Regions from separate parts of the Homo sapiens genome. Here all the other regions are reported to be linked to region 1. Evidence: microRNA targets listed by miRTarBase, many of them from high-throughput screens and not tested one by one. Region 1 holds a microRNA gene; each other region holds the end of a gene's coding sequence. Distances are from middle to middle.
The links. Region 1 holds the annotated microRNA hsa-miR-6778-3p (UGCCUCCCUGACAUUCCACAG, at 2,103-2,123, shown strand). A microRNA usually pairs through its seed, bases 2 to 8, with sites in the 3' UTR of a target mRNA and lowers its output. Matches are read on the target gene's strand: a 7mer-m8 pairs with bases 2 to 8, a 7mer-A1 pairs with bases 2 to 7 and ends in A, and an 8mer does both.

Region 1 (4,065 bases):
TGAGACAGAGTCTCACTTTGTCGCCCAGGCTGGAGTGCAGTGGCACCATCTTGACTCACTGCAACCTCCGCCTCCTGGGTTCAAGTGATTCTCCTGCCTCAGCCTCCCGAATAGCTGGGATTACAGGCATACGCCACCACGCCTGGCTAATTTGTGAATGTTTAGTAGAGACGGGGTTTCACCATGTTGGCCAGGCTGGTCTCAAACTCCTGTCCTCAGGTGGTCCACCTGCCTCGGCCTCCCAAAGTGCTGGAACTGCAGGCATAAGCCACCACGCCCAGCAGTTCGATTGTTTTAGATTTCACATAGAAGTAAGATCACATGGCCAGGTGCGGTGGCTCACACCTATAATCTCAGCACTTTGGGAGGTCGAGGTAGGAGGCTCACTTGAGTCCAGGAGTTCGAGACCAGCCTGGGCAACATGGTGAAACCCCATCTCTACAAAAATATAAGAATTAGCCGGGTGTGGTGGCACTGCCTGTGGTCCCAGCTATTCAGCAGGCTGAGTGGGAGAATCGCTTGAGCCTGGGAGGTAGAGGTTGCAATGAGCCGAGATGGCACCACCGCACTCCAGCCTGGGTGACAGAGTGAGACTCTGTCTCAAAAAAGAAGTGAGATCATGCAGTATTTGTCTGTCTGAGCCTGGCGTATTTCACTTAGCATAAGGTCCTCCAAGTTCATCGGTGTTGTTGCAAATGACAGAATTTCTTTTTTCAGACTGATTATTATTACATTGTTTATATATATATGTGTCACATTTCCTTTGTCCATTCATCTGTTGATGGACATGGCTTTATTCCATAACTTGGCTATTGTGAATAGTGCTGCAGTGAACATGGGAGTGCACATGTCTCTTTGACATACTGATTTCAAGTTCTTAAGATATAGATTCACAAGTGGGATTGCTGAATATGGAATTGATTTGTGTGGGTGAGGCGGGCATCCAGATAACATTTTTGTCCAAATGGATGCCCAGTTGACCTAGTGCCATTGATTGAAAAGGTCATCCTCTCCCCACTGCACTGCAGCGTCACCACTGGCATGGATCCAATGACCTGTGTTGTGTGTGGTTCTGCTTCTGGTTAAGCCAGATGCTCTGCCCTTCCATGAATGCGTGCTGCCTTAATTACTATAATTTGTCAAGCATTTTGTGACACAAAATACACAACGCAATGATGTTTTGTGTAAAGGTTTGGTATGATTTTCCTTTTATGGTTTTTGTTATTTACATTTCATTTTCTATCTTTCTTGCTTTTATATACTTTTTGGCTTTTTTTTTTTTTTTTTTTCAGATGGAGTCTCGCTCTGTTGCCCAGGCTGGAGTGCTGGAGTGCAGTGGCACAATCTCGGCTCACTGCAAGCTCCACCTCCCGGGTTCACGCCATTCTCCTGCCTCAGCCTCCCAAGTAGCTGGGATTACAGGCGCCCGCCACCATATCTGGCTAATTTTTTGCATTTTTAGTAGAGACGGGGTTTCACCGTGTTAGCCAGGATGGTCTCGATCTCCTGACCTCATGATCTGCCCGTCTCAGCCTCCCAAAGTGCTGGGATTACAGGTGTGAGCCACCGCGCCCAGCCCCTACTTCTTGTTTTTCAATGTTGTATCCAGTGACCTTGCTAAATTTGCTTATTCTAACAGTTGGCCCCTAGCATCTTGATTTTCTAGGTATATTGTGTTGTCTGTGTGTAATGTCAGTTTTTAAATTTCTTCTTTCCTAATCGTTATGCCTTTTGTTTCTTTTTCTTGCCTCATTATACTTGGAATAGAAGTAGTATTAGCAGGCATTTTGGTCTTGTTCCTGAAGGTAACCATTTTGGTTTCCATTGTGTGGTCCCGTCACATTTGTTTCATTCTGCAGGTGCTTTTTGGTTCCTTCTCAGCAGGTAGTGCCCCAGCAGCAGGGCTCACTACAACCCTGGGACTCCTCAGGGACTCCTGGGTCTGTGAGCCATACTTGGTTGAGCAGGCTGAACACACCAGTATCCATCCTGTCTCACCCTCAAGTCCTCATCTAGGACATCATTCCTCTTGTCATGGTGGGTGGAGCCAGTTCAAGTGGGAGGACAGGAGGCAGGTGTGGTTGGAGGAAGCAGCCTGAACCTGCCTCCCTGACATTCCACAGGTGAACCCAGATACTGGCTACATCAACTATGACCAGCTGGAGGAGAACGCACGCCTCTTCCACCCGAAGCTGATCATCGCAGGTGATGCGCGGGGCGGAAAGTCACCTTGTTCACCAGTAGCCTGGTGCCTCTTACAGAATGAGGATGGAAAGATGTTCGCACCCTGTTGAGCCCACTGCTAGTTTCTGCCCTGGATAACTGAGTTTCTGGGGTCTACATATATTAGTTTCTTTCAGGATACAGATGTGTGTTTGCTGCTTTTTGTGCTATGTAGATTAAGATGTGAGACTGTTCTCAGAGAAGCATCTAGAAATGTCAGGCCCTGACTGCGCTGGCAATAGTAGTTGGGGCCATCTCAACCACCAAGACGTTGAAGAGTTAGAGTGGTTGCCTTTAGCACAGAGGTGCTTTTTGAGGGCATTCTCCATTTTTGCTCTGAGACTTTAAGGGAAGAAATCTCTGGGCTTTCAGATCTGCACATCTAGAGGCCACTGTGAAGCCAACTCAGCTGGCCGGTGGACATCTCTGATGCAGCTGTGTCACCTTTCCTGTCTCAGGAACCAGCTGCTACTCCCGAAACCTGGAATATGCCCGGCTACGGAAGATTGCAGATGAGAACGGGGCGTATCTCATGGCGGACATGGCTCACATCAGCGGGCTGGTGGCGGCTGGCGTGGTGCCCTCCCCATTTGAACACTGCCATGTGGTGACCACCACCACTCACAAGACCCTGCGAGGCTGCCGAGCTGGCATGATCTTCTACAGGAAAGGTGAGCTCCCGAATGTTGGGTACAGATGGGTACCATGGTTTACATTTCTCCTGTGGGGGTTCAGATTCAGTTGAGGGAGCTGGGAAAAACTCTGACCTGGGATCCTTGGAAAATATTAAGATCCCAGTCCCTTAAAGAGCTGCTTAGGAAGGAGCAGTGACAGGCTTTACAGAAAGGATTCCCGGCCAGGTGAGGTGGCTCGCGCCTGTAATCCCAGCACTTTGGGAGGCCGAAGCGGGCAGATCACGAGGTCAGGAGATCAAGACCATCCTGGCTAACACGGTGAAACCCCGTCTCTACTAAAAACACGAAAAATTAGCCGAGTGTGGTGGTGGGCACCTGTAGTCCCAGCTACTCAGGAGGCGAAGGCAGGAGAATGGCGTGAGCCTGGGAGGTGGAGCTTGCAGTGAGCTGAGATTGTGCCACTGTACTCCAGCCTGGGCGACAGAGCGAGATGCCGTCTCAAAAAAAAAAAAAGAAAGAAAGAAAGGAATCCCCAGAAGGAGACTGTCAGCCACAGCTCCTGCTTCACTTTTGTGCATCCAGGTCCTAGGAACATAGGAGGGGGATCAGCAACCACTATGTGTTAGGATGGCGCCGGTTGCTGAACTCGAGAGGCAGGTGTTTGAATGAAAGGAGGGTGCATGGCTGGCTGGGGGCCACTGGGAGGCCTCACAAGGCTGCATTATTCTGGTGAACTTACAGTGATCCATCATGTTTCTCAAAGAGAAAGACTCATAGTAGTCAAACTAGAAGACATGGATGTATAAACATTAATATCATTTTAGTGAAGGTTTTTCTTTCCATTACCTCATAACCTACCCCTAGGCACTCCCCTTATTTTCGAATTCCCATACCTGGGAAAGCCTGTTAGTGGTCAGGTCATCATTTAGCCTGTGGTGAGACCTGATGCGCCAACTTTGCATCAGCAGAGACACCAGCCCTCTGGTGACTACATTACTCTTTTTTTTTTTTTTTTTTTTTTTTTTTTTTAGTATTTATTGATCATTCTTGGGTGTTTCTCGTGGAGGGGGATTTGGCAGGGTCATAGGACAATAGTGGAGGGAAGGTCAGCAGATAAACAAGTGAACAAGGGTCTCTGGTTTTCCTAGGCAGAGGACCCTGCGGCTTTCCGCAGTGTTTGTGTCCCTGGGTACTTGAGATTAGGGAG
Region 2 (4,065 bases), not on the chromosome of region 1:
CTGACTGCCGCAAACAAGCCTTGTCAGCAATATCAGATCAGCCTTTTAACCTTTCTATTTCCTCAATTACTTATCTCTCACGTGGAGTTAATTCTCTTTTTGTATCCCACAAGTTTCAAATAAGGATTAAAAACTTAAGATAAAGCATCGTTATTTTGAAAAGTTTTAAAAAGATTGTACAAAGTATTATTATAGGCTACCTTGTATTAGCTAAATGCTTTTAGTAATTCTCCCCCACTGAGGTTGACTTGCAAAGTTTTTGAAATAAGGTAATATTACTTAGCTGTGGAAAGGTTCCTAGGAGTGGGCACACAGGCAACAGAATCATTTGAGTGGGAAGTTTTAGACCATAGCCAAGAGACATAAGATGACATAAGAGTATGATTTTAACCTAAATTTGGAAATTTCTGGCAGCTGCATTAAAGATGTTTTCAAAAATCTGATCCCTAAGTGCTTCATGCACACAACTGGTGGAACTTATAAAAGAGGCAATTGCTTTCTAAAGGAATGACACCTGCACTGGTTAGACCCCGGTAAGAAACACACCCTGTTATGTTCTCCAGAAACCTAGCAGGTTGCTTTACATTCAGAGCTTGCTCCAAAGCTCTTTGAGTAACATCCTTTCTTAAACAAGAACAGAAGACACATTCATTCATTCTGGGGAGACAAATTTTACAGCTACATAAATGAAGAAAAGGAGTAGAAAAAGTGAGCTATGAAAGGAGACCAAGAATAGGGATACAGGTAGAGAAATCTTTTAAGTTTTCGATGCAAACTACTCAAAATATCAAAGATATTAGTTAGGTCTTTAGCCCTTACGTATTTCATATTCATAGGTCTGTGTCCAAGAGAGTAAATTATGGCAGCTTTTTCTTTTTGTCTGGGACTTAACAATGTGATCCAAATATGTACAATTCCATTAGTAGCTTTAAATATAGTTGACTGCTGTTATGCTTATGACTTTTCTGGCTGTGGTTAGCTAATTTATTTTTAGTCATGAAAATGTTTATGTAATTGCATGAGGGTGAAAAAAGATTATCAAAACTGCCTCACTGCTACACAGTTTCCTCTACTTAATAGTATAACACACCACAACCATACCAAATATACCAATGTGTGAGTATCTTTCAGACTTGTATACATTCTGATTTCATGAAGGGTGAACTAAAAGGAGACTCTGAGATATCCTACAAAGCTGACTTTTGTTTCATAAATAAGAAGTTAAAAACAGAACTCTAAAGAAATGGAAAATTAATGAAAAGGAGGCTGGGCACAGTGGTTCATGCCTATAATCACAGCACTTTGGGAGGCCAAGGCAGAAGGACAACTGGAGGCCAGGAGTTCGAGACCTGATGAACATAGTAAAACCCATCTCTATAAAAAATTTAAAAATTAGAGCATGGTGGCACCTGCCTGTAATCCCAGCAACTCAGGAGGCTGAGGCAGGAGGATGCCTGAGGCCAGGAGTTTAAGGCTTCAATGAGCTATGATCATGCCACTGCACTCCAGCCTGGGCAACAGAGTGAGACCTCGTCTGAAAAAAAGAAAAAGATCATCATAAATAATAATATTTGGAAAGGTTTATTAAAAATTAGTGTTTAAGAATGGACTTCTCCTGGCCCGGTGCAGTGGCTCACACCTGTAATCCCAGCACTTTGGGAGGCTGAGGCAGGCAGATCACATGAGGCCAGGAGTTCAAGACCAGCCTGGCCAACATGGTGAAACCCATCTCTAGTAAAAATACAAAACTTAGCTGGGCATGGTGGCGTGCACCTGTAATGCTAGCTACTGTGGTGGCTGAGGCATGGGAATCGCTTGAACCTCGGAGGCAGAGGTTGCGGTGAGCCAAGATTGTGCCACTGCACTCCAGCCTGAGTGGCAGAGCAAGACCCTGTCTCAAAAAACAAACAAAAAAAGAACTGACTTATCTTAATCATAAAAAATATAATCCAAGCGATTTAGGCCATTCTTGTTTTGCTATAAAGGAATACCTGAAGCTGGGTGATTTCTAAAGAAAAGAGGTTTAATTGACTCACGAGGTTTAATTGGTTCTGCAGGCTGTGAAAGCATCGCACGGGCCTCTCTGCTTGGCTTCTGGGGAGGCCTTAGGGAGCTTTTACTCATGGCAGAAGGCAAAGTGGGAGCAGGCACATCACATGGCAAGAGCAGGAGCAAGAGAGAGACGGGGAAGATACCCACACTTTTAAACAGTCAGATCTTGCAAGAACTCACTATCATGAGGACAGAACCAAGAAGGTGGTGGTAACAATTAATGAGAAATCTGCCCACATGATCCAATCAGGCCCCACCTCCAACACTGGGGATTACATTTCATCATGAGATTTTGGGGGACAGATATCCAAACTACATCACCAAGAGATAGGTCTGGTCTTATAGTATAGTTATAGTATTATATAACTTATTTGTTTATTTTAATTAATTTTTTTGAGACGGAGTTTCACTCTGTTGTCCAGGCTGGAGTAAAGTGGTGTGATCTCGGCTTACTGCAACCTCTGCCTCCCAGGTTCAAGCGATTCTCCTGCCTCAGGCTCCCAAATAGCTGGGATTACAGGGATGAGCCACCATACCCAGCTAATTTTCTTTTTTTTGTATTTCTTGTAGAGATGGGGTTTTACCATGTTAGCCAGGCTGGTCTCAAACTCCTGACCTCAAGTGATCCATCCACCTTGGCCTCCAAACTGCTGGGATTACAGTCATGAGCCACTGTGCCTGGCCAGTATTATATAATTTAAATGTTCCAGGAATAGAGATGTTTGAAAGAAATGGAATTCATAAAATATCTTTATACAGTATACCTTTATAAAAATCTATCTTCATACATCAGGCTATAAAATAGCTGTTTCTTTTTTCCTAATTAGCTATATCTTAAGTTACACAAAAGATATTAAGAATCAGTAGCAACTGCTTCACATATTTGTTTTTTATTTACAGCTTAAATTTACATTGATGCCATAAAAGGTACTAAGTAGAAAACCTGTCATGTGAGAGCTACATTATAAAGAATTCTAAGCTAATTGTCCCCACATGATGGATGCCTTTGTATAATCTCCTTTCCTTGAGTGGGAGTGAAAACTGAATGTGATGGGCCATCACTCCTATGAATGTTACATTATATGGCAAAACAAAGGTTATCCTGGGTGGGCCTGACCTAATCAAGTGAGCCCTTTAAAAGTATATATTCTTCCAGCTGGCTGCAGAAGAAGTCAGATATTCAAAGCATGAGAAGAACTCAGCGCATCACTGCTGGCTTGAAGATGGAGGGGCAACATGAGAAGGCATGTGGGTGGCCTCTAGAAGCTTAGAGTGATTGCTGGCTGACAGCCAGCAAGAAAATGGAGACCTCAGTCATCCAGTCACAAGGAACTGGATTTTCCCAATAATCTGAATGAAGTTGGAAGTAGATTTCTTCCCAGAGACTCCAGATGAGAACTCAGCCTGGCCAAAATCTTGATTTCTAGCCTTGTGATTCCCTGAGCGGAGAACCTAGACATAGCTGTAAATGAGTATTATTTTATGCTGCTAAATTTGTGGTAATTTGTTACAGAGCAGTAGAAAATGAATACAATAGCAAAGCACAAATTTTGAAAAAGCCTCCCAAAACAGTTCACCAGTATTCATTCTCAATTTGTTGTTTTCAACCTTTATATGAATGGTGGGATTTACATTTTTGTAGTCACAGATCTGCGAATCATTGTTAAAAATCATAAATCCAACTCAAATCAGTTTTAGTCCTGCAGTTTCAGGGACTGAAACCAACTTTGCCTTCTAAAACTTACAGTGCCTTTTGGGGCATCAGCCTTAATCCATTTTTCACGTTTGCTTGCTTGATTCATGAGTCCTAAAACACAAAATTGCATAAAATTATATCAAGAGCATTAATTGACCACATAGATCCTAGCAACACATCTCTGAAACTGAAAAACACCTTAGAACATCAAGAATCTTGGTAAAGATAGTCTGAACTGGGCAGGAGTTGCAAAGAGGTTATCTGGGCTTGCTCCCCTCCATTCATTTTCTCAGAACAACCCTGAGAGGGAGGCTACT
Region 3 (4,065 bases), 20 Mb from region 1:
TGAGCAGCCACAACAACCAAACGATCAGAAAGAGAGGACTATTTGGGCAGACCACTGCTACTTGACAGAGCTGGCAGCCGGCTGTAAGGAACAAGGGGGAATATACACCCTCACAAACAGGATGAGGGGGGAGGAGGAGAAGCAGGGATGAAAGCGACTCCACTGCACTGAGGCCTTGCCTTTGCGCTCCATGGGCTGCCCCAAGCGAGCACGCCACACGCAGGAAGCCAGAAGGGCTGGAGGGAAGGGGAGGTGGCGACGGCAGACCACAGAGACACCAGGCCTCGCGTGGCGTGCGGGGAGTGCACACGGGGCCGAAAGGCGTGCAAGGGTGGGGTGGGCGTGCAAGTGGCTTGGCGAGGGGTGGCAGGCGTCACCGGCAGGGCCTGCGGGGCAAGGGCCCAGGGCTGCAGGGGGCGTGGGAGCGCGCGGGGCCGCGCTCAGAGGGGCGCGCAGGAGCTGGTTACCGTGTGGTTCACCCCCCACATCAGGACGCTGAGGATCGGCTCGCTGGCCCGGAATAGCTTCACTTTCTGGCACACGAAATGCTTCTTCTTGGTCTTGGTCTTGCTGGCGCTGAGCGGCGCCACCGCCACCGCCGTGGTGCTGGTGCAGTTGGACGACATGCCCGGGGCGGCGGCGGCGGCGGCGAAAGAGGGGGGCGGCGGAGACAGCGCACAAGCCAGCGGCCTCAGGCCTCCCCCGGACCGATCCCCACCCCCGCTCCCTCACCGCGCCATGGTCGCGCCCGTCCCGTTACCTCCCACCCCGCCCCGGTGGTTCCGTCCGCCCCACGCCCCGCCCTCCCGCCCCGCCCCGGGGAGCCCGCCGGCCCGCTCCGCACCCCGCCCCCGGGCGGTGCAGCCGCCCTGCAGTCCCCTGGCCCCGTCCTCCCCGTCCGCGTGGTACGGCCCGTCCCGGGGAGGCAGCGGCCGCCCCGCCCGCCCCTCCTCCCCGGGCCTGACAGAAACCCGCCTGGCCTCCGAACGCCTCGGGGCCCCGTGCCGGAGCCGGAAGGGGAGGAGGGCTGGGCAGGCGTCGCTGTGGACCGCGGGAGGGGCTCCCCGCCCGGGCCCCCCAACGCCAGGGTTTGGCTCTTTCCCGCAACCCGAATGCCAAGATGGCGGCGATGCCACCGCTCCGGAAGGGAAGGAGGGACGGGAATGCGAGGAGGGCGGGACGTACCATGCCCACCCCGGGGGAGAGGAGGGACGCAGCAAGGGGAAGAGAAAGTCCAGCCTAGAAAGCCAAGGAACGCCCCCTCGCTCCACCTAAGCGTGGATCTGCCCACTCTGCTGGGCCCCGGGCGCGCTCCACCCGCGGGGCACGCCCCTTGCCCCCAGGGCCAATGAGAGAAGCAGGCCAGGAACACTGGTTTTTATGAATGGGCCCCGCGCCCACCCACCTGCTGCCTGTTCTCCCCGCAAAGGGTCAGAGCTCAGAGGCCGCCAGCACCTTCAGACACCTATCCCACTAATCGTCTTACTCTGGCTCATTTCGTAAAATCTTTGAGTAAACTGCCCCACGCTTTGTTACATAATTCTCAGATGAGGGATCTCCATATATTCGACACAAATTACAGGTCAACGTTGTTCTTTCTGCATGGAAATTCGTAAACACGGTACTCCACAGGTGGTCGCTCTTTAAACAGTTACAAAAATAAATGTGGCCTTTATTACCAATTATAAAATAAACATAATTAACCCCGGCATAATGAAGTGATTAAATGAATAAAAACGTATGTTACATTCTCTAGGGAAAGATCGGGTTTCAAGCATTACAGTGCCTGGCATCATAAGTGTTCAAAAACAGAAATCCAAATACATTTTAAGCAGAATTAGGAATTAGCAGAACAAGGAAATCGCCCAGCTAATGTGCGGGTCAAGAGGGCCTAGGAGTTCACTGGTCAAATGAGGGCTTCTGGTGAAAGAATAGAGAAGGGAAAAGGAGTAAAGACAGGAGAGTGGCCCCTCGAGGGTTTTGTTTTGTTGCTGTTGTTTTTTGAGACGGAATCTCGCTCTGTCACCCAGGCTGGAGTGCGGTGGCACAATCTCGGCTCACTGCAAGCTCCGCCTCCTGGGTTCACGCCATTCTCCTGCCTCAGCCTCCCGAGTAGCTGGGACTACAGGCGCCCGCCACCACGCCCGGCTAATTTTTTGTATTTTTTTAGTAGAGACGGGGTTTCACCGTGTTCGCCAGGATGGTCTCGATCTCCTGACCTCGTGATCCGCCCACCTCAGCCTCCCAAAGTGCTGAGATTACAGGTGTGAGCCACCGCGCCCAGCCTGTTTTTTGTTTTTTTTTTAGTACCTGACTGAAAGAGACTAGCAAACAACTCCTGAAAATCTGTAATTGTAGTAAGGTTACTACACGGTAAGAAGTGAAGCCGCAAAATAAAAACTTCCATTTTATTTTCCTTTAGGAGCCATGGAGCATATTGGCAATTTGGTTCTGACTCCTAAAATCATTTTACTATACCTTTACACTGCCTACATTGGAGACTGCAAGCAGTGGAAAAGAATAGATACTCCAGATCTCGTCGATAAACCCAGGCTCCTCCTAAACCAGCCAGATTCAGAGAGAAAAACGAGCTGGCCTGCCTTATTGTATTACTTGCCATCAAGGTTCAATGTGGTTCTATTACCCAGTAAAGTCATTGACCAAACAAGGTATTTTCACAAAGCTAACCTTTTTTAAAAGCATGTAAAAATTGTACATTTGTACATATACGCATTACAATTTTACATCCAAAGATCAAATAGTTAACAGTTCATTTAGGGCTTTTTGTATTGTTTGATTTTCCAGATTCTGTCACTCCCTTGGCTTTGACCTAACCTGACATCATTCTGTCACATTATCTTCTAAATCAAGTAAACGTTCATTTGTCTCAGTAAGCACAATCTATCTGGGTGACACCAGAGAGGTTTCTGAAGGGTCTGGTGTACGCTGAGGCAGTGAAATAGGTCTGTTGGCACAGGTAAGAAGGAAGTGGCATGATAAACATCACAACCCCAGGGAACAGCCTTCCAGAGTGGCACAAGCACTCCCACCGAGATGGTCCAGTGCCCACCCGTTAAAGAGTCAAAACCCAAAGTTACTGAGTGTCCCACAAAGCAAGTCACACTAGCTCTCAAAGGAAGTGAGCTGTTTCAGGACTCAATGAAGCAGGGTCACTTTGAACACTGGTGGTTTGACATCTGTGAAAGAAGTCATTTGAACTCTTATAAAGAGAATTAAGGGGTCAGCAGCTTCCCTGGAAAATGCAGGAAAACCAATAAGAGAGGGGACAGTTTTCATCTTTTCATAAAGTTCTTCTCCAGAGCTACCGAAGTTCTCTGTAAAGAGTAGATATTCCGCTTCACCCGATCCTCCAGGGAGGAAGTAGATGCACTCTCCAGCTTCATGCGGCTAGGAAGAGAAGACAGGCAAATGCAAGTCAAAAACATTTTCAATCAGTCAACTATTCTGGCAGCTTCAGAAGAAATGGGTTGTTAGCCATAGAGCAGCTGTAAAAACACAACCTCTTTTAAGCTCCCATAGATAACTTTCGAGTGACTCCACCTGGAACCAAATGTTTTTAAACCAGTGTCCATAAGGGAAAATGTATCTGTTTTGGAAAATAAGTCAAAGCCTCATTGGAAAAAGGCTTCCTGGGCCATGAATTCTTATTAAAAAGGAAGGTCAAGGAATTTCAATGATTTAGAAAATACCAAATTCACTTCTCCTCCCCTCAAATGAAAAACATCCCACTGTGTGGTCAGAAAGGAAGAGTAGTAGCCAAGGTGGTCTGAAGGCTGGGCTCCATGTGCAAACACAGAAACACTGGAACGGGAACCAGCTGCCAGCCTGCCTCTTAAGACCTTCCCCATGAAAGACCCTGGCAGGAAGAAGATGCACTCACTGGATGAACTTCCCATCCCGGGAGTCCAGCTTCTCTAGCCTCTGCTCCCGTTCCTCATCCTTAGCATGCCTCTTGAGGATGTTCAGTCTCTCCTCCTCCCTCCATTTGGCGTTTTCCATCATCTCTTGCCGTTTTCGCTCTAATTCCTCTGCAGAGAGTTTTCT
Region 4 (4,065 bases), not on the chromosome of region 1:
TCTATTTTTATAATACATTTTATATATATATATATATATATATATTTTTTTTTTTTTTTTTTTTTTTTTTTTGAGATGGAGTCTTACTCTATCACCTAGGCTGGAGTGCAGTGGCGCAATCTCAGCTCACTGCAGGCTCTGCCGCCCAGGTTCAACCGATTCTCCTATCTCAGCCTCCCAAGTAGCTGGGATAACAGGCGCCTGCCACATCGCCTGGCTAATTTTTGTATTTTTAGTAGAGATGGGGTTTCACCATGTTGACCAGGCTGGTCTTGAACTCCTGACCTTGTGATCTGCCTGCCTCGGCCTCCCAAAGTGCTGGGATTACAGGTGTGAGCCATCGCGCTCAGCCAATAAATAAAATGTTTTAAACTGCTCCAGATGAGAACATCAAGGCTGAGGGTTACTAACTTGTCCACGCTATTGAGTACAGAGATAGGTCTGAGATCTGGGTGGCCTGTCACCAAGCCAGTGCTCTTTCAGGCCAACTCTTTCTGGGCCTGTGCTCACCAAGTGAGCCCAGGGGTCAGTGTGCAAGCTTGAAAAGGGAGAGCAGCCTAGTTATGTGCAGGGAGCACGCCCTGGGGGTGTTTTTTTTTTATTTTTGAGACAGGGTATCATTCTGTCACCCAGGCTGGAGCGCAGTGACACAATCACGGCTCACTGCAGCCTCGACCTCCTGGGCTCAGGTGATCCTCTTACCTCAGCCTCCCAGGTAGCTGGGACTATAGGTGCACACCACCGTGCCCAGCTCATTTTTCATAGAGACGGGGTTTCGCCATGTTGACACGGCTGGTCTCAAACTCCTGAGCTCAAGCCATCCACCCACCTCGGCCTCCCAAAGTGCTGGCACTGCACCCAGCCTGACTGTTGATTCTTATTTTTTTGAATCAGTCTATCACCCAGGCTGGAGTGCGGTGTTGTGATCTCAGCTCACTGCAACCTCTGCCTCCCAGGTTCGAGATTCTCCTACCTCAGCCTCACGAGTAGCTGGGCCTAGAGGCAAGCACCACCATGCCCAGCTAATTTTTGTATTTTTAGTAGAGGCGGTGTTTCACCATGTTGGCCAGGCTGGTCTGAAACTCCTGGCCTCAAGTGACCCGCCCACCTCAGCTTCCCAAAGTGCTGGGATCACAGGCATGGGCCACCACGCCCGGCATGAGTGTTAATTCTTAAAGCATTTGGCAGCCCTACTGAGGCTCCTGCAGCCAACCCCATCAGTGGTGGCCTGTGTCCAGGAGAAGCACACCCAGTGAGTTGGCCGGCCCCAGTGCTGGGCATGAGGCAGGAAATGAGCCCCTCCATCTGCTGAGCTGAGCCCCAGCACTCTTCGGACACTCCCGCCACAGCGAGCAGATGCCCAGGGCTACTACCAAACGCCAGCGTTTACCTGTGTGAGAGCCTACACACAACATGGAAGAGCTTCTAACACTTATGCATTTATTTTCATGTGTAAGAAGAAAAACGTAACTAGCACGTGAACATGACTGCATGGATACACGGCTCAGCACGAGGCTAAAGTCAGAAGTGAGTGAAAACAAAATAGCATGTTGATTTAAGTGAAATAACAGAACAGGAGGCCTTTGGTTATAACAATTGTGGAGGTGGTCTGTGAATGCAGAAGTTCGGGACTCCCTGCTCTAGGCTCAGGGCAAGACGCTGTGGTCTGGGCCGAAGCCCCTGGGGTTCTACAGAGAAGCCTGCCCAGTGCACGGCCCCTGTGGCATTCTCGTGGGAGCGTGTGAGACCCCAGGGAGGGAAGCACATTCTGTTTAACTTGTCCGTGCCGTACAAAATGTCTTAGAAGTGATAAAGCAACAATGATGATTCTCCTTCAAAGGGAAGAAGAATCTTCCAGGTGTGGTCTTGAGGACGCAGAGGTTACAACACAGGCTGGGCTGCAGGGCCCAAGTAGGACTTGAGGTCATAACCAGAGGACTGAAGGGACACCTGTCCTGGCACCATACTGGAGAAGTGCTTGTTTGTGTTTGGGGGAGAGGGGGTGCATGGCCCAAGTCAAGGCTGAAGGAGGAACGCTTGGCCCCTGCACCCTGTTCCCAGCATATACCAGGCTCTCACCCCATGCCTGCTGACTCAACACAGCACCCGGGAGGTGCCGCCAGAAGGCAGGTCGGGGGATGCTGACATCCCGGGGTGTCTGCGGACCACCCTCTCCTCTTGGGTCTGGGCCCTGGCCCCACTTTGCACCACACATTCCAGGGCGGGGAAGTCCATGGCTGTGCCCCAACTGGGTCCCATTCCTGTACATGTGCGAACCAAGGGGGTGTTTGCTATTATGCTCCCCACTAAATCCAAAGAATGTTGGTTCCCATCATTTCAACCTCAACATTTTCAAAAAGCACTTTTTTTTTTGGAGACAGAGTCTCGCTGTGTCTCCCAGGCTGGAGTGCAGTGGTGCCATCTCAGCTCACTGCAACCTCTGCCTCCCGGGTTCAAGCAATGCTCCTGCCTCAGCCTCCTGAGTAGCTGGGATTACAGGCGCACGCCACCACACCCAGCTAATTTTTGTATTTTTAGTAGAAACGGGGTTTTGCCGTGTTGGCCAGGCTGGTCTCAAACTCCTGACCTCAAGTGATCTGCCTGCCTTGGCCTCCCAAAGTGCTGGGATTACAGGCATGAGCCACCACATCCGGCCTAAAAGGCACTTTTTTTTTTTTGAGACGGAGTTTCCCTCTTGTTGCCCAGGCTGGAATGCAATGGTGCAATCTCACTGCAACCTCTGCCTTCCAGATTGAAGCAATTCTCCTGCCTCAGCTTTCCCCAGTAGCTGGGATTACAGGCACCTGCTACCATGCCTGGCTAATTTTTGTATTTTTAGTAGAGACAGGGTTTCACCATGTTGGCCAGGCTGGTCTTGAACTCCTGACCTCAGGTGATCCACCCACCTTGGCCTCCCAAAGTGCTGGGATTACAAGCGTGAGCCACCATGCCCAGCCTCTAAAAGGCACTTTTTAAGGGACCTTGGAGTTTGTCCTCAAACAGCTCAACCCCACAGGCGAGGCTGGTCCTAGCACCCCTACCAGACAGCTAGTCAGTGAGAGGGGTCCAACCTCCCCCAGCTTTTCCCTGGAAGTGGGGCAGGGTCAGCAGGGAATTCTGGGGGTGAAGCTCATGGTCCAGGAGCCTTCTGGTGCCCAGAGGGTAGAGGAGTGGAAGGCCTGGGGGTGCTCAGCCCCACTGTATCCTGGACAGGCTGGGCCGGCTTGCAGGCTGGTCTCCATGGAGGCTCAGAAGGAAAGTGTGCAAGAGCAGGTTAGGAAGGGAAACCAAGTCAGGGAAGGGCCCCAGCCGGGGCTAGTGGTCTGTTCACTGCCCAGCGGGCACTCTCAGCAGCACCCCGCAGCACTCCGCTTCACATGGCATGGCTTGCAGAAGAGATGGTTGTTCAGGGGGTAGCAGCCTTGGTCCGTGGGCTCGACAGACAGGAGGATCCTGCAGTCCTGGGGAGACAAAGACACATGCTGACCCGCCCTGGGCCTGGGCGCTGCCTGCACAGGGGAGGGACTCACTTGGCATCTGCCGAATAAACCAACTGCATGAGTGGATGCCCTTCCTAAGTGGGAGGAAGGAGGCTGCTCACTGCTGCCCTCCCAACACCCGGGCCAGGTCTCCATAAGGGAAGATGAGACACAGACACACATGGAGGCTTTAATCCACGTGGAGGCGCCGGTGAGGACAGACATTCACCGTCAGGAGAACTAAGGACACCTGGGGAAGTCCCCTGAGGGTTCAGGGAAAGTTGGGGCTAGAAGAGTCTTAATAGCTCCTTTATTATTTTTTAAAATTTGTTTTTATCATTTATTTATTTTGAGACAGTCTTGCTCTGTCGCCCAGGCTGGAGTGCAGTGGCACGATCTTGGCTCACTGCAACCTCTGCTTCCCGGGTTCAAGCGATTCTCCTGCCTCCCAGGTAGCTGGGATTACAGGCGTGTGCCACCACACCCAGCTAATTTTTGTATTTTTAGTAGACAGGGTTTTGCCATGTTGGTCAGGCTGGTCTCGATCTCCTGACCTCAAGTGATCCGCCCACCTTGGCTTCCCATG
Region 5 (4,065 bases), not on the chromosome of region 1:
TACTAAAAATACAAAAATTAGCTGGGCGTGGTGGCGCATGCTTGTAATCCCAGCTACTTGGGAGGCTGAGACAGGAGAATCACTTGAACACGGGAGGCGGAGGTTGCAGTGAGCCGAGATTGTGGCACTGCATTCCAGCCTGGGTGACAGAGCAAAACAACGTCTCAGAAAAAAACAAACAAACCAAAAACCACTTCCTGAAACACCTTTACCATACAAACATTGTTAAATTGGTTCACCTCTTCCCCATGCAAAATGAAGCACCTTGGCTATACTTTAACCTACAGACACAAAAGATATTTTAAAAGTCATTAACTTTCTTTTCTGTGTTTCAGAAGTTTGATTCAGTAGAAGACATCATCGAACACTACAAGAATTTTCCCATTATACTAATTGATGGGAAAGATAAAACTGGGGTCCACAGGAAACAGTGTCACCTCACTCAGCCACTCCCTCTCACCAGACACCTCTTGCCTCTGTAGCCTGGTCTTTGTGTTATCTTTGGTTTACTGGATTCAGCGCTTCCATTGTTTTCATTGATTTCAAAAGTTTATTTTCTGTGCCTTCAAGGGACAACTTTTTTAACTTTGGAGAAAAGAAAAACACTCTATAACAGAGAGTGGAAAATCACTCACGGTTTTGAAAGTTCAAACCACAGAGAAAATATTTATAACATGCAAAAAATAAAAACATTCTAGTAACTGGCCACTGGAAAATAAATAAAAATAAAAACTAGGGTTTTAAAAGTATCTTCTAAAAAACAACAACAAAAAATACTATAAACATAGCCATTATGCTCATGATACAGGCGAGCAGCAAAGGGCACCAGAAGCTGTTGCTTAAATGTTTGCAGTCAGTGCAAGACAAGTCTATGGGAAATTCCCAAATCTGTGCTCTTTACAGGACACTGCGCTGCCTTTATGTCAGTTGTTGGGCCTTACATATATACAATGTGTGGATGATTTCTTACACTAAAGATGCTGGGCTGGGTGCGGTGCCTCATGCCTGTAATCCCAGCACTTTGGGAGGCTGAGGTGGACAGATCACGAGGTCAGGAGATCAAGACCATCCTGGCTAACATGGTGAAACCCCATGTCTACTAAAAATACAAAAAATCAGCTGGGCGTGGTGGTGGGTGCCTGTAGTCCCAGCTACTCGGGAGGCTGAGGCAGGAGAATGGTGTGAACCCGGGAGGCGGAGCTTGCAGTGAGCCGAAATCGCGCCACTGCACTCCAATCCAGCCTGGGGACAGAGAGACTCCGTCTCAAAAAAAAAAAAAGGTGTTGGGTTGGTGAATATTAGCTCTCTTTTATTGTAATCCTAGAAATTCAAGTATAGGGAAGAAATGTGGTATGGAAAACCAGCAATTGTGAATGTCACCTTGAAGACAGAAACTGAAAATCCTCTGACTAGGGTGTGAAACGGTCATGGGACCAGCCTCCAGCATCATCTGCTTCAAGTAGCTTTAAGTCAAATGGAATTAACACATTCATAGTACAGAGCTCAGATTATATCCTACACTAGCCTTCAGGCAAGCATATGTCTGAGGGAAACTAAAAATTGTATTAACAATTCCAATTATGGACTTCCATTCAAAGACAGAGAAAAACTGTCCTCAAATTAGTGCTAATTCTTGCAGTAACGTTGCACAGGCCATGATATTATTCCCTGTAGAGGTTAAGAGGATTTAATTTTATTATTGTTTTACAATAAAGATGAGGAAACAGAGGCTCGAAGTAGCTATTGATCTTACTCAATATGAGAAGAGAGCCCAGATTGTAATCTGCTTTGCCTGGCTCCATGCAAGCTCATCTTCCCAGGTACATTCTCTGCGCTGTGACATTTTACAATCAAGTTGAAAAGCTAATTTAAAAAAAAAGAGAGAGAGAGAGAGAAAGATAGAAACAATTTGAAAATACAGATTTACCACCTTAAAATAAATAAACTCTTCTAGTGGGAATAAGCTTTTTTAAAAAACATACTGTCTGTCGAAAATAACAGTATATCATGATGTCAAATGCTACCAAAGCTTACAAAGGAAATTCATAGAGTATTTATGTAATTGTAGCATTGATGCAGAAAGAAAACCAAAAATAATTAAAAGGCAATAGAAGCAAATGAAAACAATAAAAACAATGTGCAGGATTATCTCTTTTGTAAGACAGCAGACAATGAGCTCTCTGGGAAAAGCTCTTAGCATCTACCCACTATCCAAATACCTGCTCAGGTGTTCTCCTTTCACAAGGTCAATGTGAAGTGATGCCTATAAGTTACATCAGGAGCATTTAATGAAGAAGCTATTTGTAAAGCTGGAACTTTTGAGACCCAGCTGAGCCTATCGTAGAGTATGCCTGCAGAGGATTACATAGAACCAAGAGACAAGAGTGTTTAAATTGGAGCTTGGATACGAAAGAACTCACTGGTCCGGTCAAAGCTAAAAGCTGTATGGTTGCTGGTCATTCTCTACTGGAATTCAACAAGCCAGGGACAGTATGGAAACAAGGACTTTACAGAAGAGCTCCAGGCTCACATTAAGAAGGAATCTGACCCTCACCCTAAAAAGCTATTGGGAGATTACTGATACCTCCAACTCACTGATTCATTGAGGCCATGCCATTCAATGCTATGTTCTCAAGAAATGTCTATGAGTCCTCTCAACCATTGCTGTTGATAAAATAGGTGAATGTCAAGTGGGGGTTAGCATTTGATAAGGTGTACGTTTGAAATAATATTTTATCGTCTCTTGTTCACAAATACAACATATAATTCCAAGAAGAAAAAAGAAGTAGAAATTCAGCATCCTTAAGATGACAGCAAGAATGAGGGGAAAAGGAAGAAAAAAAAGAAATTAAACATCTTGCAATAAAAAGCTTACAATATTTTTGTGTATTTGAACACTTCTGTAAAAAATATAAAATGGAAAATACTGACATGGGCTGCTTCTGGTGATTGGGGTTTGAGGGATTGGGTGTCGGGTTTTCTAGAACTCAGACACCAGGACAAAGTTAGAAGTGCAAACACTGATTGGAGGTTAATGTTTGAGAAAGATAAAAGGGAGAAGAAACAGAAGTATGGGTATGGGGTGGGCTTTCAGGCTCCCACCTGTGAGAGGGAAGAGGGGAGGTGTGGGGAGTGAGGAGAAAAAGCATGAGATTCAGACACAGCTCTGGGAGAGTTTTGGCCAGCTCATAGTGAGGCCCAAAGCAAAGTTTGCCCAGAGAGGAGACAGTGTTATGCTGGGCAGTAATGTCTGGGTCTTAGTGCCCCATCCTGTTAAGTCATTGTCTGGGGCTATCCTGGGAAAAAGAAAAACAACAAAAAAAAAAGACCTGCAAATGCTGTGGCCAATCCAGAAGGCGCAGCTGGACGCTGTCCACTAACTTGCTGGCCAGCAAGTTATTTCAATGGAGACTCAAGAGACCCACCTCTGGCCTGCCACAGCAACATCCTGAATTCACTGTTTTCAGTGTTGATTGTAGTAAGGACAATCACATTTACATTTTGCTTGTAATGGATGATTAAATAATAAGAGTATATAAATTCGATTGTATTTGTTTCTTACAACACTTCTGTAAAGAAGAGAGGGCAGCTATTTCTAATGCATTTTATAATTGAGGAAATTGTACCTCATTGGCCAAAATCTCACAGTGACATAGTCGCGACTGGAACCAAGGTCTCCATATGCAATTATCCTATTCATGGTCTACCTGCTTTATTAGATCTGTAATTGAATATTCAATGATTTGGATTTGGCATGCCCAAATTCCAGTGTTTTAATCCCTTTTCAACCATTACCTCACGTTTAGTTTAAAAGTATCACTTGATATCTGATTTCAATAGAGTAATAGAATTTTAGCTTTATCCAATTACAGCATTTATGCTTTCCAGATATTTTTTGGACTAAATAATTCTCATTCTGTATAAATGTGCATAGCCCTCATCATTAGTCATATATTGTGTTAGCACCTTTGTGTACTGCATGTGTATTCATTACTAAGCACTATTGTAGATGTTGAAAATAGAGCAGTGAATAAGAGAGATAGATGACAAATAAATATACAAACA
Region 6 (4,065 bases), not on the chromosome of region 1:
CGAGCAAATGAACGTCACCACCGAGATTTCGGCACCCCAGAAACAGCCCAACCGGCTCCTTCCCACCAGCTGCCTCTTTACTAAAACATCCGAAACCTTTTTCTCACTTTCCCCAAGCTGTTTTCCTCACCCTTCAGAGGCCTGCTGGGAAAACAGTTCGAAGCAGGCAATTCTGCAAAGTGGGGGGGAAACAAAAACAACCAGCTCAGAGTTAGGGCTGTGCAGCCAGATGCAAGCGTGAAAACAAAACCGAACCGAAAAATCCCACCACTGTGCGGAAGGAGTGCCACACAGGCTGGGATGAGAACCGTCGGGGTTAGGGAAATGTCTCTGTAAGAAACCCTCAAGGACTAGAATTACTCCTAATGGGAAAAACGTGTAAACATGTCCCACTTAAATGAACATCACGATGCAAATGCTTAGTTATGAGGACTGAAAATGAACCCCTTTCAACCCAAAACGTGCAAGAAAGAGAAATTTCGGCATTTTAATGATGCCCAAGGACAGGCAGTCAACCAACAGCACTTGGAAAGGGCAAGTCTGGGCAGAGGTGCACATCCCGGCCTTCCTGTGTTTCTTGGGGGCCATTGTTTTCTCAGGAGGGAGGAAAAGAGGGAGGGAGGAAGGAAAAAGGGATGGAAGGAAAACGAAAGAGGAAGGGAGGGAGGGAGAAAAGGGAGGGAGGGACAGAGGGAGGGAGGAAAGGAAGGAAGGAGGAAGGGAGGGAGACAGGGAGGGACAGAGGGAAGGAAGGAGGGAGGGAGGAGAGGGAAGGAGGGAGGGAGGGATGGGGGAAGGAGGGAGGGGAGGAAAGGGAGGCAGAGAGGGAGGGGAGGGAGGGAACGGAGAGAAGGAAGGGAGAAAAGGGAGAGAAGGGAGGGAAGGAAGGGAGAGAAGGAAGGAAGGGAGAAAAGGGAGAGAAGGGAGAGAAGGAAGGAAGGGAGAGAAGGAAGGAAGGGAGAGAAGGAAGGAAGGGAGAGAAAGAAAGAAGGGAAGGGAGGGAAGGAAGGGAGAGAAGAAGAGACAAGGATGGGAGGGAAGGAAGGAAGGAAAGAAGGAAGAAAGGAAGGATTTGTTGGCTGAAGAAGAGAGGGAGGGTTGGACGGAAGGAGGAGGGAAGGAAGAGACCATGTGAGAGGAGGTGAGGAAGACAGGAAGAGAGGGGTGATAAGGAGGCTGGGGGGAGAGGGAAGGCGCTGATGCCATCCGGATCCATCCAGGCTGCCTCGTCCATGGGGCCTCCGTTTATACAACTATCCACTAAGTGAAGGAACCGGCAAAAATCTCTGCTCCCGGGGAACACTTTCACCAGCTGCCGGCTTTATTCACTCAGAAATTTTGATGCCAAAACACCCGAAAGTACATCATAACTTGAGGATTTACAGACAAGAAAGAGGAGCACAGAACTGACCGTGGGTGCCCTGGAAAAAGTTGCTTTCAACAAGGACCACAACAAAAATAAAAATAATAATAATGATAAACCTCCCTCCACTCCCAGGATCAAGGGGTTCAGACAAACTGCAGTCCAGACGGACACGCGGCAGACAAATGAATGAGGAGCTAATGCATTGCTCTGGTTTATTGAACAACAGTCCAACTTTACAGCATTAAATAAGGGGCAACCGTTCAGGAGGGGAACGATGGCTTAAAAATAAAAATGAAGACAGAGCCGGGACAGTTCACATTTCCACGTGAGTGAGGAAAAGCGAAGGATTGTTAGAGACGTGAAGAGAACGCTGGCAATGCTACAGAATGGAGCCCACGGAGGCGTGGGCTGCCCTGCGTCCCCGGCCTCGGGGCAGAACAGGGAGCAACCCCAAAGCCTGCCCCACTGTGTCCCTTCCAGCTGCCCTTCTGCCGAGAACACCCGGAGCTGAGGGTTCCAAGTTCACGGCGGAACCGCTTCCCTTAAAAAGAAAGCAAAGGTTACGTGGATTTCTCCCGTGCTTCCTTTTCCACAGACTTAAACCGGCTCAGGACGTAAGGATAACATTCTGTGCTGCTTGCAGCCCTGAGAAGTCAGCAGCCGTGAAAGGCAGGTAGTTCCTTTGCCCTCTGACACCCCGAGTTCTTGGGGTCTCGGCAGAACACTGCCTGGAGCTGAGTGGGGTCATCCCTCCTAGACACCGTTCTCCCCAGCCCAGCTTGTCTTCACGGAGGCAGAGAACCCGCTGCACGTAGAATCCAAGCAATATGCTAAGCCTCCTGAAGTATTTTTCCTCCAGTTAAAAAGCAGTTCTACATGTTGGAAAACGTCTTTCTGTTTCCCTGAATGACTGAAAGCAACTCGCAGGAATCCAGCCACGGAAAACCCCTCCGGGGGCAATATTTTAAAATTCATTTCCCCTATGGTATTCAGTTTAAAAGAGAAGAATCAAGAGTCCTTTCCGGTAATCAAATCAAAAACACCTTATGTGGAAAAGCTGGCCGCACGGGGGAACTGGACTTTTAGGGCTGAGACACCGAAGACATAACCTCCGGACCCGTGAGCCACCCACTTTTGTTTTGTTTTGAGACGGAGTCTCACTCTGGCCTCCAGGCTGGAGTGCAGTGGCGTAGTCTTGGCTCACTGCAACCTCCACCTCCTGGGCTCAAGCGAATCTTCCGCCTCAGCCTCCCGAGTAGCTGGGATTACAGGCGGGTGCCACCGCATCTGGCTAGTTTCTTGTATTTTTAGTAGACACGAGGTTTCACCATGTTGGTTGGCCAGGCTGGTCTCGAACTCCTGACCTCAGCGTGAGCCACCACGCCCGGCCACCGCCCAGTTTTAAGGACCAACTCCGCAAAGTGAAATTTCGGCAGGCAGCAGGAAGCAGGCTCTCTGGCAGCAACCTGTCGAAAATACAACACATTCCACACTTTTTTTTCTGTTTGCTTTTTGTTAAGTGTCTGCATTTTTGTACTCATCTGTCACATTTTTAACCGAACATTAAAAAAAAAGGTCTCTCTTTTTAAGAAGGGCATTTTGGCTAAAAGGTCTCTTCCCCATTTCTCAGAAGCAAGAGGTCCCTGCTTGCACGAGAATGTAAACATGAATTCAGTGATCTGGACCTCGCAGAAGTCACACATGATGATCGGGAAAGGCTCCTTCGACGCCACCCAGAATGTTCCTGCGTTTCTTCTAAACCCTCCCAGGGAGAACTCGAATCAGACATGGTGGAGGTCTTAAGTATCTGTGAAGGAAGGAACAGCTCCTCTAGGCTCTGCTGCACGCAATTCCCAAGCAGAAGCGTTGGCAGTTCCCAAGCAGAAGTCGTCCGGGCCCCGGGAATAGGGGAGGAAAGGAAACCCACTCAAAGCCACCTCTCTTGTGTCTTCTTTTTTCTTTTTGAGAGAGTCTCGCTCTTGTCGCCCAGGCTGGAGTGCAGCGATCTCAGCTTACTGCAACCTCCACCTCCCAGGTTCAAGCGATTCTCTGGCCTCAGCCTCCAGAAGCTGGGATTACAGGCACATGCCATCAGTCCTGGCTAATTTTTGTATTTTTAGTAGAGACGGGGTTTCGCCATGTTGGCCAGGCTGGTCTCGATCTCCTGACCTCAGCTGATCTGCCCACCTCGGCCTCCCAAAGTGCTGCGATTATAGACAGGAGCCACCGCCCCCGACCCTCTCTCACTTCTCAAATCTCTTTCCTTTTTCCACCTTCTAGGTGTCAAAGACAGTGGATGGTCTCTGAGGTTCAAAACCAAGCTGACCGGGTAAGTATTTACAGCAAAGCATCCAATGGGCTGCTGCGGGGATGACTTGTAAGACAACACGCTTCCTCGCTACAGGAAGCTGCTGTCCCTAATGCCAAAGAAACCGCCGCTGACGCCATCCCCCAAGGAGAACACCTGCTCCTGGTCCAGGCCCCACTCCCCCTCGTCCTGGTCCTCGGGTTCCGCCTCTGCCCCACTCCGGGCGTTCTCATACAGAAACACCTGCTCGTCCACGTGCGCGGGAGCCAGCCGGTTCCTCTTGGCGCTGACCACGTTGGCGGCGGATCCGAAGAGACGCTCAGGGGCGACGCGCGTGGCCGTCACGCACCAGTACTTCTGCAGCACCTTGGGCAGCAGGGGGAAGAGGGCC
Region 7 (4,065 bases), not on the chromosome of region 1:
TTCAGACTTTCTCCTGCCTCTGCCTAAGTGTGACAACCCTACTTTCAAGGAAGTTCCATGGGTTCAACGGGGGTCAGCTAGGGCCTTAGTTGCAGGTGGAGGGCCCAAGAGAGAATATTCCTTGGAAAGTGAACAAGGCTGGAAGGCAGAAGGGAATCTGGCATTTTCAGACAGTACCACTTATTAAGCAGTTCCAAGTGCTTTGCAGGTATTAATCCTTAAAATAACCCAACAGGACAGAGACTTTTCTTTCCATTTTAAGGATGAGACTGAATTACAGAACCCTGAGGAAACTTGGCCAGGTCACAGTTTGTAAGTGGTGGCACAGGGACTGAGCTGTTTGCTTGTCCGACTCAGGAGCCCATGCTCTTGGTCTCTATAAAGGTGACTGAGCCTAAAGGAAAGAAGCAAAGGATTTACAGAGAAAGGGGAGGAGAAAGGGCCACAGGTAGGGACTTAGGCATTGTACTTTAGAGCATGGTCCCTGGAGGTTTTAGAGAAGAGAGACAAGAGACCATTGTTTAGGGTAGGCCAATCTGGCTGTGGGCGCAGGTTGGATCAGAGACTGGTAGAGACCTGAAAAAGGGAGTATATATCTGGCCACTGCAAAAGGTAACAGCAGAGAGAACTCAGGGCCAGACTTGAGGTGGGGCTGGGAGGTGGTCACAGAAGAGGAATCTGCGATTGCCCCAGGGATCAAGGATTGCATGAGTCAATGACAACCTAGCAAATGTGGGCAACTGGAAGAAAAATGGCAACATGGAAACAGACAGTGACCACTGGTGTGGAGCTAAGAATCTGTCAGCCATTATGCATATGCAAAAAAATAATTCTTTGCAACTGCATTGCCCCTTCAGTACTCCCTTCTAAATACTGCCTCTCTGGAACATTTCCAGTAGGGTGATCAACTCTTTCCCATCTGCCCAGCATTTTCCAAGTTTTGGCATTGAAAGTCCCTCACTCCAGAACATCCCTCAGTTCCAGGAAAACCAGGATGGTTGGTCACTCTACTTTCCAGTCCTGGGAACTCAGAACTCAGGCTGTTGGGTCAGACCCCTATTAATTAGGAGGGTGAAAATGGGGCAAAGTGTCAGGAGTCACGTGACTCTTGGAGAAGCTACAAGTCCAGGGCAGGCTAAGGTACTGGGGAGGGAACATTTACTTGAGAAGCTAGAACAAGGAGCCAGCTCAGCTGGAAGGCAAAAATACCATTGAGTAGTGGTGGGTGGCCTTTGAGAGGTCAGGAGCCCTACAGACATCCCAAAAGCATGCAGGTCCCTGCTCAAAAACAGGAAAGCCAGATGGGCAGGCCTCTTATGGAACCACTGTAATATAATCACCCCTTGGACAAACACAACCACCTATGCCCATCCTGCTCCCCAACCAGGGGTGAGCAAAGAACTCTCAGGGCAAATCCTTCTAGTTAGGAAGGTAGGGTCCAGTCAAATTAACTGGCTGAGTCATAACCTCTCTCCCCATTGAGGTTTCCCAAATTCTAGCCCAGCTAGCACTGCCACCTCTTATACTGAAGACTTGGACAACAAAACTCAAACCTGTCCCACCAAAATGGCCTCTGGATGGAGGTCTGCTCCGCTAAGCCCCGCCCTTGAACAGTGTGTATCAGGATCACTTGGTAGGTTTATTGAAACACAAATTGCTGGGCCCTGCTCCCATGGTTTCTGATGTAGGTCACTGCAGGGGGCCTGAGAAATTGCATTTCTTTTTTTTTTTTTTTTGAGAGTTTTGCTCGTTACCCAGGCTGGAATGCAATGGCGCAATCTCGGCTCACCGCAACCTCCGCCTCCCAGGTTCAAGCGATTCTCCTGCCTCAGCCTCCCGAGTAGCTGGGATTACAGGCATGTGACACCACACCTGGCTAATTTTGTATTTTTAGCAGAGGAGGCGTTTCTCCATGTTGGTCAGGCTGGTCTCAAACTCCTGACCTCAGGTGATCCACCCATCTTGGCCTCCCAAAGTGCTGAGATTACAGGCGTGAGCCACCGTGCCCAGCCTGAGAAATTGCATTTCTAGTAAGTTCCTGGATGATGCTGATGCTGCTAGCCTAGAAAGCACACTTTGAGAATCCAGTCCCAGAACTCTGGATTTTGTGAATTTCAGCACCAATTCACCCACACTCCTCTCTTCCTATTGTGGGAAGCATGACTATGTAGGACAGTTGCAGACAAAAAGTGGTTTATTTAGCACCCACTATGTACCAGGCACTTGGGAGGTATTTTCTCACACTTTCGCTTTCCATCCTCACAATATCCCTTATGAGGTAGGGACTACCCTCATTTTTACAGGTGAGGGAACTGAGGCTTAGATGTTGACAGACCCATCCAAGGTGACCCAGCTGGTAATGGTAGACTTCATCCTGCTACACAGTATTTAAGGGGCCTAAACCATAAACAATTTTTAAAAATTTGGGAAAGTCACACATAAAGGAGATGTTTCAATACCTTCTCTCTCCAGGTATGAACAGTATTGAGCAAGACCCACAGGGCAGCAATAATCATTTATCCTGATGAAAGGTTCCTCTGTGAAAGGTAAGGGGGTTGGGGGAGACCTAAAGCCTTCTGCAGACCCACATTTAAATGAGCTGACAGTCCCAGCAGGACTACAGAGGAACCAGCTAGGGGAAGCTGCCAGGATCTTAGACGTGAAATTAAAAGGAGATCATGCTTCTTACCCAGGAAGTGGGGAATTCAGTTGACCCTTGAAAAAACTGAATAAATTAACATGGGGAAAGGCTAATTACCATGCCCAGTGCTGGGGTGGAGAAACAGAGTGGCCAAGGTTGTAGCAGCTTGGGCACCTGCTGAGGCCCCATTCAGCGGGAGAGCCACCAGTTGGGAGTGTGGACATGTATGGCCCTACCAGCTCTAAGCAGGAGCTGGTAAGGGACTTCCCAAATGCAAACCCTTGGTGAATATTCTAGCAGTGAGAGGAGGTGAGCACCAGACCACTGGACAAGAGAGGTCAGAGTCATACATAGCAATCTGGACAGGAAATGGCATGAGGAGCTGTGAGTAATCTGGGGGCTATGGCTAGAAAAACAGGGCACGAGCTGGGGCTGAGAAGAGGTGAGCATCCATCAAGCTGAAAGGTGGGACTCAAGCCCCCTCAGCACTGTGACCCCGTTCCTGTACACCAAGCTCTAGTTGGTGAATGAGGTCCCCTGGACCAAGAGGAAGAGAAAGGCCCAGATGCTTTCTCACTGTCTCTGCTATAGCCTAAAAACCTGAACTTTTCTATAGTTCCCTTCTTGAGCCTTGGTGGGTTTTATTTTTCCTTACTGCCTCCAGAAGAAGCTTGAGAACCAAAGGATGTTTCAGTGGATGTGGGGCTCCTTTCTCTCATCAGAAGCTTCCCCATGGCAAGAGGAATGACTGCCAGGGCATCATTAACTATGGATCTAGAGAATAAGGTCTCAAAATATGCAGTGAACTGTCACCACACTATGTCCCCCACCAAGGGATATATACATGGCCCTGCCCTATGAGGGACCGGTGCCCCCTCATCTGGCCTGAGACAGATGCTGGAGCCCAAGTCCCAGGATGTCCCAGCCCTTTGAAGGGTCCTGGGGCTTGAGAGGATGGGGCCTTCTACTCTGAGTCTGGGAGAGGGGCTGGTTGGGGTGGCTTCGGTGACATGAAGGATAATGCAAGAGTGGAGACAGGCCAGGGGACCTCAAAGCAGTGCTTCGAGGGCACCTGAGGGAAGGTAGGCCTGAGGGTGCCAGCTCAGCATGGGGAAGTGGCTGGAGGGCCCCAGGTGACAGAGGTGGTGCACAGATTCCTCCTCGCTGACCCTGCTGAGAAGGGAGAGAGAAGGGCACCAGATCCTTCTTTTAAGCAGGAGAGCCCATGCCTCTCATTCCACCCATCCTTCCCCGCCCCCTCCTTAGCCACCTGAGGCTTGGTATTGCAGTCCCAGCCAATTCTCCCTGATACCCGCCTCAGCATGACAGTGTGCCTGGCCCCCTTACCAGTGTGAGGTGGAGAAGGCAAGAGCGGAGCTCTCGGGCTGCGTCAGGCTGGGACCCACCTCTCAGAGTTTCCTGAA

Region 2: the mRNA of FAM185A is a reported target of hsa-miR-6778-3p. Seed matches in the 3' UTR shown: 7mer-m8 at 3,611-3,617.
Region 3: miRTarBase lists CWC25 as a target of hsa-miR-6778-3p. Seed matches in the 3' UTR shown: 7mer-m8 at 2,240-2,246 and 7mer-m8 at 2,104-2,110.
Region 4: the mRNA of FBLIM1 is a reported target of hsa-miR-6778-3p. Seed matches in the 3' UTR shown: 7mer-m8 at 2,911-2,917, 7mer-m8 at 2,610-2,616 and 8mer at 2,442-2,449.
Region 5: the mRNA of CLNK is a reported target of hsa-miR-6778-3p. Seed matches in the 3' UTR shown: 7mer-m8 at 1,024-1,030, 7mer-m8 at 1,158-1,164 and 7mer-m8 at 1,190-1,196.
Region 6: the mRNA of ZBED1 is a reported target of hsa-miR-6778-3p. Seed matches in the 3' UTR shown: 7mer-m8 at 3,558-3,564 and 7mer-m8 at 2,613-2,619.
Region 7: miRTarBase lists TTC31 as a target of hsa-miR-6778-3p. Seed matches in the 3' UTR shown: 7mer-A1 at 3,297-3,303.

Annotation. Positions count from the first base shown.
Region 1 is chr17:18,338,872-18,342,936 of GRCh38, reverse strand. It overlaps MIR6778 (microRNA 6778), which reads left to right and starts at 2,051; the gene lies at 2,051-2,123. It overlaps SHMT1 (serine hydroxymethyltransferase 1), which reads left to right. Exons shown (of 12, transcript NM_004169.5): 6 at 2,124-2,205; 7 at 2,682-2,894.
Region 2 is chr7:102,808,084-102,812,148 of GRCh38, reverse strand. It overlaps FAM185A (family with sequence similarity 185 member A), which reads right to left. Exons shown (of 8, transcript NM_001145268.2): 8 at 2,924-3,859. The coding sequence ends at 3,747. It overlaps FBXL13 (F-box and leucine rich repeat protein 13), which reads left to right. Exons shown (of 21, transcript NM_001394494.2): 21 at 1-960. Among named protein-coding and RNA genes, the nearest start is that of FAM185A, 61 kb to the right of the region's middle.
Region 3 is chr17:38,798,799-38,802,863 of GRCh38, forward strand. CWC25 (CWC25 spliceosome associated protein) reads right to left here. Exons shown (of 10, transcript NM_017748.5): 9 at 3,902-4,063; 10 at 1,643-3,408. The coding sequence ends at 3,294. PIP4K2B (phosphatidylinositol-5-phosphate 4-kinase type 2 beta) reads right to left here and starts at 758. Exons shown (of 10, transcript NM_003559.5): 1 at 468-758. The coding sequence starts at 626. RefSeq lists an enhancer at 1-753.
Region 4 is chr1:15,783,944-15,788,008 of GRCh38, reverse strand. FBLIM1 (filamin binding LIM protein 1) reads right to left here. Exons shown (of 9, transcript NM_017556.4): 9 at 1,420-3,461. The coding sequence ends at 3,348. Among named protein-coding and RNA genes, the nearest start is that of UQCRHL, 22 kb to the left of the region's middle. RefSeq lists enhancers at 89-853, 854-1,618.
Region 5 is chr4:10,486,884-10,490,948 of GRCh38, reverse strand. It overlaps CLNK (cytokine dependent hematopoietic cell linker), which reads left to right. Exons shown (of 19, transcript NM_052964.4): 19 at 336-4,065. The coding sequence ends at 482. It overlaps LOC105374482 (a long non-coding RNA gene), which reads right to left and starts at 1,836. Exons shown (of 3, transcript XR_925387.4): 1 at 1,754-1,836.
Region 6 is chrY:2,484,871-2,488,935 of GRCh38, forward strand. ZBED1 (zinc finger BED-type containing 1) reads right to left here. Exons shown (of 2, transcript NM_004729.4-2): 2 at 1,565-4,065. The coding sequence ends at 3,765. All of the region lies in intron 1 of DHRSX (dehydrogenase/reductase X-linked), which reads right to left. Among named protein-coding and RNA genes, the nearest start is that of DHRSX, 14 kb to the right of the region's middle.
Region 7 is chr2:74,492,671-74,496,735 of GRCh38, reverse strand. TTC31 (tetratricopeptide repeat domain 31) reads right to left here. Exons shown (of 13, transcript NM_022492.6): 12 at 3,989-4,065; 13 at 2,177-3,814. The coding sequence ends at 3,518. Among named protein-coding and RNA genes, the nearest start is that of LBX2, 4.9 kb to the left of the region's middle.